Linked DNA regions of Homo sapiens: region 2 is linked to region 1. The links come from fine-mapping of genetic effects on gene expression. Tissue or cell type: stomach. Region 1 holds a variant in brackets; the other region holds the start of a gene. All regions are shown on one strand. Distances are between the middles of the regions.

The links. PIP is the estimated chance that this variant, and not a neighbour inherited with it, causes the effect.
Region 2: it holds the start of ZDHHC21, and the variant in region 1 is fine-mapped to the expression of ZDHHC21 in stomach (GTEx, PIP 0.97).

What each region holds. Positions count from the first base shown.
Region 1 is chr9:14,155,838-14,161,905 of GRCh38, reverse strand. It overlaps NFIB (nuclear factor I B), which reads left to right. Exons shown (of 11, transcript NM_001190737.2): 4 at 6,013-6,068. Among named protein-coding and RNA genes, the nearest start is that of NFIB, 160 kb to the left of the region's middle. The variant A/G (reference allele first, on the strand shown) is at 2,445.
Region 2 is chr9:14,690,375-14,696,442 of GRCh38, reverse strand. It overlaps ZDHHC21 (zDHHC palmitoyltransferase 21), which reads left to right and starts at 3,011. Exons shown (of 10, transcript NM_178566.6): 1 at 3,011-3,214; 2 at 6,058-6,068. RefSeq lists an enhancer at 2,506-3,006 and silencers at 3,080-3,149, 3,230-3,369.

The DNA of each region.
Region 1 (6,068 bases):
CTTGCCCTAAGGAGTGTAAGTTGGCAAAACAACTTTGTGGAAAGCTGCTTGACAGTTTTTACCAAGAGTTTTAAAAGAGTTTATGTCCTTTGACCCTGTAATTCTAATTCTGGGAACTCCAGCCTAAGGAAATCATGAGAATGGCTGACAAAGATTTGTGTATGAGGATGTTAATTACAGTGCTATTTGTTTATTATATTTTAAAAATTGGGAAATAACCTAAAATGCCAAACAATGGAATGGTTAATATAAAGTATGATACAGCCATGCAATATATAGTCATAAAGATCATGCTTTTGAAAAACTTTATCTAAAAGGACAGATACAATGTTAATAGGAAAAAAGCTGGATACAACTATATTTAAATTTGATATTGATTTTATAAATAAATATATATATATATGCGGAAAAAGTTTAAAGGACTGGAAGGAAATATTGAAAAAAATATAATGCTATCAGGGCGTGTTAAAGTTGGGAAATTTCTGACTCCCTCCAAGATCACCTAAATCATCCTCGTGGGTTTACGTTTCATATTGAGAGATACACTTAATTCTAAATTAATATTTGAATGTTAACCTGGGCTATAGGCTGAGATTTAATCTCTGTGAAGAAAATCACCGTCTTTGCAATGATTAATATTTCTATTTTATAATCACAGTTTCAGCTTTAACTTCAACACAAGTTTAGCTTTAACCATGGATAGTTCAAGTCAGTTGAGAAACTGAAGATAGAACTATGTCCTGTAACATCACTACCAGAAAATTACCAATGGGTTAGTTGTGGTATCTGAAGTTATATGAAGATTGGCAAAGAGCTAGTATAAAGTAATCTCTTCTTGTCCCTTTACAAAAAGAATTAAGCCTTCTTTTAAACTCTGTTGAAGAAAGTGAACAATTGCAATCATAGGGCTGGAAAATGCCTATAGATGTCTTATGTCCACCTGTTTGTTCTCCAAATGAACAATGCCAGAAAACTAACATAGGAAAACATCTGTGTAAGAAGGGAGAATCTGTGGGTTGCAGTGGCTTTTGAGATGCTTTCTTCTTTTTTTCTGTTTTTTTTTTTTTTTTTTTTGAGATTTCCTTCACAAAGCAAGAATTTTTATATCCAGTGGGAGTCTTTATAGCCACTGAGAAACTATCTCTGTAAGATGAAAGTTTCCTCATCTGTAAAATGGCAACACCAATAATATGACATATTTTATAAGATAATGGTGAACGTGAAGTTAATGCCTGCTTGTGAAGGTCATCACAGTTGTTGGGAATATATTGGTTATGCTACCTTTGCAAAATTTCACATGCCTTTTTAGGCCTGTTCCCATTGGATGACAAATCTGTTTATTGAGCCAAAAAACAGCTCCTGGAACTATGCAGAATAAGTCAAATCCACCATCTACATTAATAGTCCTTCGAATACTTGAAGACGGCTTTCATGAATTTAATAACTGCTTTCTGTGGCTTCTTTTTTTTTAATTTCAAGAATAGAACACAGTAGACTGTAAAAATGAGCATTATCAGTCTTCCTTTGGATTTTCTATGTAAATGTTGTTTAACATTCAAATGGTACTGATTATAATTTGAGATATTAACAGTTAGATATGCCATTGTGTCCCTCTGTTATTGTTTGTAAAGGAGGTTAAACAGTATATTAACTTCTGAGTAGTGATTTACTGTTGCTTTTGTCAGAGAAAAATAAAAAAGAAGTAAAATAATATAATTTGATATTGCCTTTGAGACTTTTCAGTTTGTAGAAGTCTTTATTTCCTACTCAATTTTATTTTTTTTAAAAAGCACACATGTAGTGTAAATACAGCATCACACAAATGCAGAGTTGTTCTTTTCTTCCTGGATTAAGCTGTTGTGTAATATTGCTCTGTAACCATTAAGCAGCTGCTCTGCCTCAGAGATGCTCATATTTCCTTTGGTAGACGAAGGGAATTTACTATATGAATGTCTCCAAATTGCTTTAAGATCTTTAGCTGTTGTATTAGCTATTTAGATTTACAGTGGTCTATGAAATGTGAAAAACATGTTCCTGAAAGGCCCAAGGACCTTGGAGGTTACAGATGGGGTTATGTTAGCAGCAGATAACCTGACATTTTGCTGAGTTTCACCCCCTATCCTACTGCAGGACCCCTGCCCATTTCAAAATCCTCTCAGTTATTTTGCTACAGCCCTCAAGTATTGTCTTCTGTATGCTAATGAGTAAGCACTAGTAGGTATCCAAGTACTATTTTAAGTATCTGAGTACTATTTCATCCATGATTTCTTTTTCACTCTGCCACGTCTTGGTTAATGCCTGTCCGTTACAAAGGCTATGCTGCCTGCAGAGATGCATGAAGGTGGCAGCCATCTGCTTCCGGTGCTTCTCCCAGGCTACCCCACTTGGCTGATTCTCACCTGTCCCTGTTCCCATAGGTACATGGTTAATAGGCATCATCACTC[A/G]TCCTCAGGAAACCTTCCTCCACTAAAGTCTCACTGGGCTCCATGCAGGAGTAGAGCCCAGTGGGACCTCTGTGGTTTTTTGCATTTTATCCAGTAGGTTCCAAAGAAGTTCTGATATATTTCCAATGCTTTTCATGGTTTCGGTAAACTACCTCTTTCCATTGTTTCCGTAGATTCCAATTTCTTAGAACCTGGGAAGTTGGGGGTGGGGAGTGGAGAAACACCCTGCTACATTCTGAATTGTCTTCTTTTTTTCTGTGAATAGCTGCAATAGTCATTGTATTGTCTGTGTTTGACTGCCTGACTGTCTTCCCACTGGTAGAATTGGCCTTGAGCTGACTCATCCCTTCTTCATGATTTGGCTTCCAACAGGCTCACACCCCACTCCATCTTAATGGTCATGACTTAGGAGCAGATGGATCTCTGACTTCTCATTGGAGTAATAAGGAAATGAACTTCAGATTACACATAGATATTGTAATGTTATTTTGTATTACCTCTGATATAGTTTATGTAAATACATTGAAATGTTCATCACTTATTCATCGATGTGTTTCACAAATATTTTTGGGCTCTTACTATTTAAACACTTCCAGTTCTTTGGTTGTTACTTTGTATTAAATGCTTGACATTACACATTAGTACACAACAAAGTAAGAGATACAATCCGACCCTAATCATTACTCTTTCTCATGTGACCCAAAAGCCTAAATACACTCTTCAGCAAACAAGTTCTAGGGAATAACAGAGGTTAGTATAATTATCCATAAATCTTAAACCATCTGTATCTACATTGTAATAAAATGACTAAGATGTTAATGTGTGACCCTGTTTGTAAAGTTGAATTTTAAAATTTTGTTCTGTGTTTATTTAGTACTTACTCTATATATAGGCAACGAGTTAGTCATTAAGGAAGATATAGAGATGAACAAAACCCAGTCACTTCTGTAAATAAAGGATCTGATAATCCAGCAATGACTGCAAGACTTGAAAACAGATCTCTCAGAAAATCTGAAAGTACAAAGTATAAAATTAGTACAAACTAGGTGCTATACAAGTACAGAGGAAGGAGATTTCTGGCTGGGCCAGTGGGTGGTAGAAGGAGTTGGAGGAGCAGTTTACAGAGTGGGTGGTGGTTGGGCTGGATTTTGAAGGATGAGACTAGAGTGTGTAGAAAGAGGGCCATCTCATCTCAGGGAGCTGCAGGAGGAAGATATGAAGGGTAGGCATTTACAAAGTACAATTGGGTGATGAAAAATAATCTTGTGTGACTGGTTAAGTATATGAGCTGTAGTCATGATAAAGGAGGTTGTTTTGTTTTTTTGTTTTGTTTTGTTTTTTTTTTTTTTTTGAGATGGAGTCTTGTTCTGTCGCCCAGACTGGAATGCAATGGCTCCATCTCGGCTCACTACAACCTCTGCCTTCCGGGTTCAAGTGATTCTCCTGCCTCGGCCTCCCGAGTAGCTGAGACTACAGGTGCCCGCCACCATGCCCGGCTAATTTTTGTATTTTTAGTGGAGATGGGGTTTCACCATATTGGCCAGGCTGGTCTCAAACTCCTGATCTTGTGATCCACCCACCTCGGCCTCCCAAGATAAAGAAGGTTTTGTACTTAATATATTTACTTTATTAAGTTTACCCTATATAAAATAAAGTATAATGAACTATAAACAATAACAAAAGCAACAAAAATCTTTCTATATGATAGTAAGTTACAGTGGTCCAGAAGAGTCAAAACATCTCTTTCCCCGACCAGGCAAGACAGTCAGTGTCCTTTTTTGTATTCATGACTTTTAGCACCTTGTACAGTGATTGTTACTTAGAAGTTTCTCAATAATTACTGAAATGAATTTAACCTGGTAAAAATTAATTGCTCAAGAAATAAGAGTTTCTTAAAATAGAAGTGCATTAAATTGGGACATTTTGTTATAATACTCTTAAAAATGTATATATATTTTTCAGAATAATGACTTAATGTGGCACCTGTTTTATTCCCTACTGAGATCTTACAACTTCCTCTCACTCCTTCTTTCATTCTGTTTCTAAAGAAGGTGGGTGGGTGGATGTCAAACATCAGTGGCTCCTCAGTTCACAGCAGTGAAACACATATGCTAATTGAATGATTTTCTGTCTTTTCATGCTATGTATGGTTGAAAAGCAGTGTGGTGCCTTTTGTTCTGGTAAATTTTCTGAATAAAGATTTGCGGATCATTTTGGACTGTCTGGAGGCCAGTGTGCGTAATTCGGTATATAGCTGATCGCAGGTTCCACTGGCCCTAAGATCTTAATTTGTTGGTAACATGCTTATCATGGGGTTTATATTTTTATCTCCAGTAGTAACAACTCTATAAGATAGGTGATTTTTATTGTCTCCAATTTGTTAAGTGAGGAATCTGAGGCAAAAAGAGGACTAATAACCTAGCCAAGATTTCATAACTGGTCATCTGTGGCTAGGATTCAAATCCCAGCTCTTTGATTTCAGTGCTCCATGTTGCTGCACTACCCATGCTTCACATCTCTGAACTGCATCTAATTCCTTGGTCAGCCCTGAAGCTTTATGTAAAATCCAGTCAAATTGCCAGTTCTTAGAATCTAGTTTTGTTTGTTTGTTTCTCAGATGTATTTCAATTCTGAGGATTTTCAAACTTATTCTCACCCTAGGACAGAAGCAAGTAGGCCATAACCTCCCCTGCTAAGGTATTCCTCACACTCATTACACCCCCTTAACATAGATGAGAATGGGGTGGGCTGGGTGCAGGGTTACTGTTGTTTGTGGGAGTTCTCATCTCTAGTTTTGGACATAGACCAGCTAGCAAGCAGGCTCCATGGCCACTGTGGACCCTGCCCCGGTGTGACTTAAGGGTCATGTGGCATTCCCAGAGGCCTGGATTCACCACCATTTGCCAGAAAAGTTGTCTAATTCTTGAAATAAAAGGAGTCCAGTGGAATAGTAGCAAGGGTGAGGAAAGCAGTGAAATCGTGCAACGTATATTAAAGATGCCCAGAAATAGGTCAACGCAAAGTTCTGTATTTGCTGTATATACAAGTTCTGCTTTTTATGTTATTAGTGACCCTGGAACAAGGGTCGGGGTGCTGGTAACAGCAGTTCACTTTTCTTTCATCAGAGAAGGGTTTACAAAAGAACGGTGGCTTTAAGAGATCTTTGACATTATTCCAGCAAGGTGCTAATTGTGGTTGTGGTTTCCTTTTTCTTTCTTTCATTTTTCGCTTTAGTCTACCAGGTGCTACCGAGTCAAAAGCATTCACTGAGAGCCCACAGACCATTCTGTATGCATGGGCCATGGCAAATCAAACCGCATCAATAAACCTGTACTTTTAGAAAGGGAAGAAAAAATTTTCCTAAGAGATTATTTGGTATCTAAACTTTTTATTTTTGTTTAAACAAACCTAATTTGCATTCCTAAGAGTCATTTTTTAAAGTCCTTATTGTAAGCATATTTGGTTTTTGTTCAAACCATTGGCTTTAAAACACTTAAATTCTAGTGTATAATCATTTATTTTACTTTCTGCTTATATTGATCATTTTTCCTTTAATATTTATTTTCAGGTTACCTTGAGGATAGTTTTGTAAAATCTGGAGTCTTCAATGTATCAGAACTTGTA
Region 2 (6,068 bases), 530 kb before region 1:
TTTGGAGGCATAGGAAGGTGGGGCAACTTGTGAAACTTCATATATATAAATTTCATATATATAAATATATATGTTCCTGTATGTGTGTGTGTATATATGTGTGTGTGTGTGTGTGTGTGTGTGTATTTGTGTATATGTGTACTTTGCTGGGGTCCACAACTTTCATCAGATACTCAAAGAGATGTGTAACCCAAAAGAGAAGAGGTTAAGAACAACTTTTAGAATATTAGATTGTTATGGCACAGGCACTCTGCCACTCAAACAGATGGGAGAGACAACTATAGGCAACCAAGAAATCATGAATGTGCATCAAATATGGGTGCTTAAGGCATGGTACCCAGCTGGGCAGGTGGAGAATGCCATCCATCCAAAGCTGCCAAGGGCTATTAGCCAGTACTGATTAAACTCTGGACTGCACTGATTTTTGGAAATTGCACTAAAATCCAGATCCTCCCTAGTCACGGCACAGAAGCACAGGAGTTGGCTGTGTTTACCCTCATAAATGCCCTGAGTGTGCCTTTGTTAGAAGCTTGGTTGGCAGTGGCAGCAATGCTACTTGTCCTTGTCTACTTTTTCTACTTCCAGATAAATATTAGTTTGATTAATAATCACATTTCAGTTTGTCCCAGGCCCCATGAAGTAGATTAGAATTCTGGAGGGAAAAAATATGGTACGATCTATATCGTCTTTCCATAATATACCCAGTAAATAGAAAATCTTTTCAAAAGATTACCTGATGCCACATCTCCCTCACCCCCTTATTGTTACCCAGGTGCCTGAATGTATGGGTTGCAATACAATATAACCAATGATTAGCATGAATGATAGAACCAGATGACTTGACCTTCAGTGTAAGGGATAGGCAGGCCTTTGATTATACTCATGAAATGCCCATGCTAAAAAGGTTCATGTTTTTAAGGATGTTTCTCCTGCCTCTTCTCTCCTATTCCCTTGCTTAAAAATTCTCTGTGGAATTGATTTGGCTGATAAAAGACAGGCTAACTTATTTTAAAAAGGGACTGAAAAATCCATGCACTTCCAATTGTCATGTGCAATCATGGACCTGTCAACTAATTCTTATTTTGGCAGTTTTGAGATCACTTGTCACAAATTATTCCCTCTCACAGGGGTATCTGAAGAGAAAGCAAAATAATATGCAATTCATGTAGCTGGATTCAGGTGGAGGGGATTCTACTTTTAATATGCAATTGGGTAGCTGGATTTGGGTGGGGGGGGGATTTTACATTTAATATGCAATTCTGGTAGCTGGATTCGGGTAGGGAGGAGTCCACATTTAATATGCAATCAGGTAGCTGGATTTGGGTAGAAGGGATTCACATTGAATACGCAATCAGGTAGCTGGATTCCGGTGGGAGGATTCCACATTTCCTCTTCCTTCAAAGTGATTGTTTATATGAAATATCTCCTTCTTTTCAAACAGAGAAAGTTACAAAAATCCTACTACATCAAATGATTTATGAAAAATAAAGGTAATTCTATCAAAAGCAATCGTGACTAGTCTTTCAACCTCGCTATGCATATATCGGGGAGTGTATTTGTTAACCTGAAAGGCAATAAAATCTGCTTATGGGTAAATCAATTCCTACCACTGGGTTCTTTTGGGAATATCTAGTAATCTAGGTCAGTAATTCTAAAACTTGAGTGTGTATTAGGATCACCTAAAAGGCTTGTTACATCACGGATTGCTGGGCTACACCTAAACAGTTTCTACTACAGTAGATCTGGGATGGGGCAAAAGAATATGGATTTCTCACAAGTTGACAGGTGATACCGATGCTGCTGGTCTAGGGATCCCACTTTGATAACCACTGACCAAAGTTTTTAAGGTCACAAGGTGTTTATAATTAGTTCAGAAACCAGGACACAACATGTTTAAAAATCCTTAGCAATACAAGGTAATATGAGGCCCCAAACAGGCAACAATGTGCACTATATAAGGGCAGTGGTGAGAGAACTCTGGTTTGGCAAGATTTCCACTCTCAAATCTGGATAGGGTTAAGATCATCAGAGAGCAGGGCATTCTAGAATGGGGAAATGAACCAAATTAGTTGGAGCTAAGACTGGAGAGGTAGGTAGGGATGTGTCTGTGGAGGGCTTTTAAGCACATCTTATAAGGAATACAGATTTTATACAACAGGTAATATTTCTTCCACCAACACACTGTCTCCTCCTGTGGCACGTGGGCAGAAAGATCTAGCTCCACATTACTGCAAACGGTTTAACCTTCCCCAAATACTGTTCAGCCGGAGTGAGGTGGGAAAGTTAGTAGATCTCTGGTGTTTGGTGAAGATACCAAGTTAGACTGAGAGGTGGATTACTTGCATCGCTGAGTCCAAAAGTTGTCGGCTTTTGCAGGGATGGGAAAGCAGGAAACTTTTGGAGGTCTCCCAAAATATAAGAAAAGATTGTTTGGGTGTGGATTTAGGTTGAGGACAGGAACAGGAAATATCCTGGGATGTCTGAGGCAACCCAATAGAGGGTCTGAAGTGGACGAGACCATGCACTACAGTGCAATGCTTTTCCATCTTTACGGTGCACCCCAGGAGTCACCTGGTGATCTTGCTGAAGTGCATGTACTGATTCAGCAGGCCTGAAATTGTGCATTTCAAAGATTGTGAGTTCCCAGAGGATGCTGATGCTGCAGACCGCGCTTTGAAGCAAGGTACCATGGGACATCCCAGAACACCTGCGGGGAGAGAGGCCTGCTGGCCACATCCCCCGAAGAAAGGATACATGCAATCTTTTAAGCTAAGGCCCCCATCCTGTCTCTCGGGAGAGGTGAGCAGTGAGGATATGGGGACAATGAGAAGGACGGCTCAAGTAGGGCTGGGGAGGGGCAGAGGCGCCCAGGCGCGCCAGGTGCAAGCGCTCTGGAGAGTGCGGTCTGCCTGGGTCCGCGGCTCTGGGGCTGCGGCGCGATTGCAGGAGTTTCGGCCCTCAGCGGCTCCCATCGCGGCTCCCGGGAGCTAAGCGAGACGGCGACGGCGGCAGTCGTCCCTCCCCACGCGGGCGCGCGGGCATGCGGACACCCACTCGGCCGGTCCAGGCCCTCAGGCTCCCGGAAGCGGAAGGGGAGAGCGGCCCGGCCTGGGCGGCGGCGCCGGAGGAGGCGGAGGTGGCGCGGCAGGAGGAGGGGAAAGAGCTGCTGGCGGTCGGGAGAGCGGCGGCAGCGAGAGGCGAGCCAGCGGCGACGGTGAGTGTGCAGGCGCGGGGGCGAAGCGGCCGCCCCCACCCCCATCCCCATCCGCACCCCCACCCCCATCCCCGGCCCCCGCTCCGCTCTGCCGGGCCCGCCCGCCGCTCCTCCGCGCCGGGACGCCCTCACCTGTTCCTGCACGCCCCCTGCACCTGCTCTGTTTGGAACCCGGGGGTTTCTCGGTGCCTCCCCGCCCCAGGCCTGGCCTTTTTCAGAGCGTCTTCTGCTAGAGCTACAGCCCCTTGCTAAGTGCTCCTCCCTCAACTGGGGGTGGGGGGTTCCTGCTCTAGTCGAGACGATGTTGGCTAGTTATTTATTTATTTATTTTAAATCTGTATCCTGAGTTTCTCGCTTGTAAACTACAGTTTCTCTCCCCGCACCCCCGTCTGGAGACCTGCACTGGGATCCCGGGTTTCTCTGTGCTATTCCAGAGCTTTTCATTCATTCCAGACTTCTGGTGTGAAGCTGCAGAGAGGACAAACAGTTTGCTCCTTTATTGACCTTCTCACTCCTCTCCTCTTGATCCAAAGAGGTTTTCGGAAAATGGCTTATGGATGGCAGCAGTTTGCACTTGTTACTGTTCACTGTAACAGGTCGCTGGATTGTAACTGCAGAGTCCATTTAAGTTACGGTCTTTTTCAAGCTATATGTGGGTCACATTTTAAGATCCCTTGAGAGTCAGGGTGGATGTCTGTATCACCAGGGCTGAGAGGACATGACCAATTATTACTTTAAAATATTGCAATATAGCAGTCTCTAAAAGTAGAAGAGAAAAAAAAATCAAGGTCATTGTGGGCGGGTCATAAATTATATTGTAAAGTTACAGTCCAAAGGCGACTAAGGATAATTAAGTGCAATTTAAAAAGATGTGTTAAATAGGTCCTCAGCCTACTATGCTAATATATGCACTTTTAAAAATTCACTGCTTTCCTTGTGGTAAGAATAATATTAATAACAGTCACCATTTGATGACTGCTTAGTATGCGCCATTCCTGGATTAAAAGGCTTTTGGTGTAATATTAAATTCTTCCAACTCTTTAGATTTTACTTATTTTAAAGGTAAAATTCGGAGAGATGCTCTGTTTTTCCTTAGTTTGTGCCATCTCTTAAAAGCAAAAAGATATTTGAAGAATTGAGGTGAGAAATCCACTGGAAAGAAAGAGCCAAATGAGATTTGGTGTCGTGGAAAGAAAAACTAGATTCTAGTCCCATTTCTGTCACTATCCAGCTGTGGGTTTACAGGTAGGGCAATGACCCATGTTATTTTCTCTATACCATCAGAGAGCCAGACTAAATTATTTAAGGCTTATTTTAGCTTTTCCATGCTTACTTGGAAAATGTTTTTAAATAAGACCCTTTAACGTGGTTTGAAGGTACATTAAAAACATATACGAAGTATTAGTAAAATATGAAAATATAAGTTAAAATGTATAATTCCATAATTGTTTTGGTGTAGTACTCTTCCAGAATTCATCATTTTCGATGGAAACAATTCTATTAGATCCTTTGACACTACTGAGATTTCTGTTAACATACTTGAGAAGCTGTAGTTGGAATAAATGAAATAGAGCGTCATTTAAAGAAAATGATGAGGACCGTGTCACTTTTGCCTACGAGGTACTTTGTTTAATAAGAGAAATCTAAGCATTTAAAAATGCAGACATATAATCAGCTTAACAGGAAGTTCTGAGACAAGAATCAATGAATCATAACATGTACTTCTTATTTGCCTACTGCCTCATTTCTTTAATTCGTAATGACCGATTCAGAACCTGTGGAAAAATGCATGAATAAAATAATGGTTTTATAAAATGTGACCCACATATAGCTTGAAAAAGACCGTAACTCAAATGGTCTCTGCAGTTACAATCCAGGGACCTGTTATAGTGAATAGTAACAAGTGCAAACTGCTGCCATCCATAAGCCATTTTCCCGAAAACCTCTTTGGGTTGAGAGGAGAGGAGTGAGAAGGTCAATAAAGGAGCAGTTTATTGTTTGTCCTCCTGCTAGTCTTATTATATAGTGGTTTAGTAAAGAAACTGCTTGAGAAGTTGAGTAATGTCTCAACATGGAGCTGTTTTTCTGGAATTGTAATTGAATGTGACTCAGTGAAAACTTTTTTAGCATAGGAGGTGACACAGTGGCAGTATCAATACTACCAGGCAAAAGAGGGAAGGCAGAGGAAAGGCTGTTTTTATTGCCAAGAGTTTGTTCCCTAAATTCAGTTTTACTTTTATATTAAGGAATGTAACCTTTTATGTTGTTTTAGTAAAACATTAGGGCTCAGATTCAACTTTTCACATGCATTAAATATAATAGGCAATTTAGCATCTAGTAGAATAATCAGTGCTTAAATAACTCTTATTAAAGGTAAAAATACAGGTGAAATTGTAAAACAGTTTTTATTGTTGAAAGTGATTTGTTAAGAATTCTTGATAAGTCAAGTCAGACTAGTTTAAAAAGCACATTTTCATAGACATGTGAATCATCACTGTGCTCATTGATAGGTCCCTGAACAAAAATACCTTAGTATGATGGTACTTTATGTGTTTGTTTTGCTCTTTAGACCTAACCTAGGCAAAATTGTGACATTTTTGAAGTTTGCCTTCTGCCTTTCAAGCTGCTTTTTCCTCTGTGCTATTTCTCTCAGGGTAGATTAACCTTCTTCCCCATTTCAGAGACTCTCTTAACCGATGTGTTGCCCCTTCTACAAAAGGGCAGGTTGGGTAAAATTGATATTTTACCATTCACTGGTGAATTTTATTTTAAATCTAACCTAAAATGCTCAAGTGTGATGTCAACCAAGCTTCTGATTTTAAGCTTTTTATCTGTAATTACAGAATGAAGAACT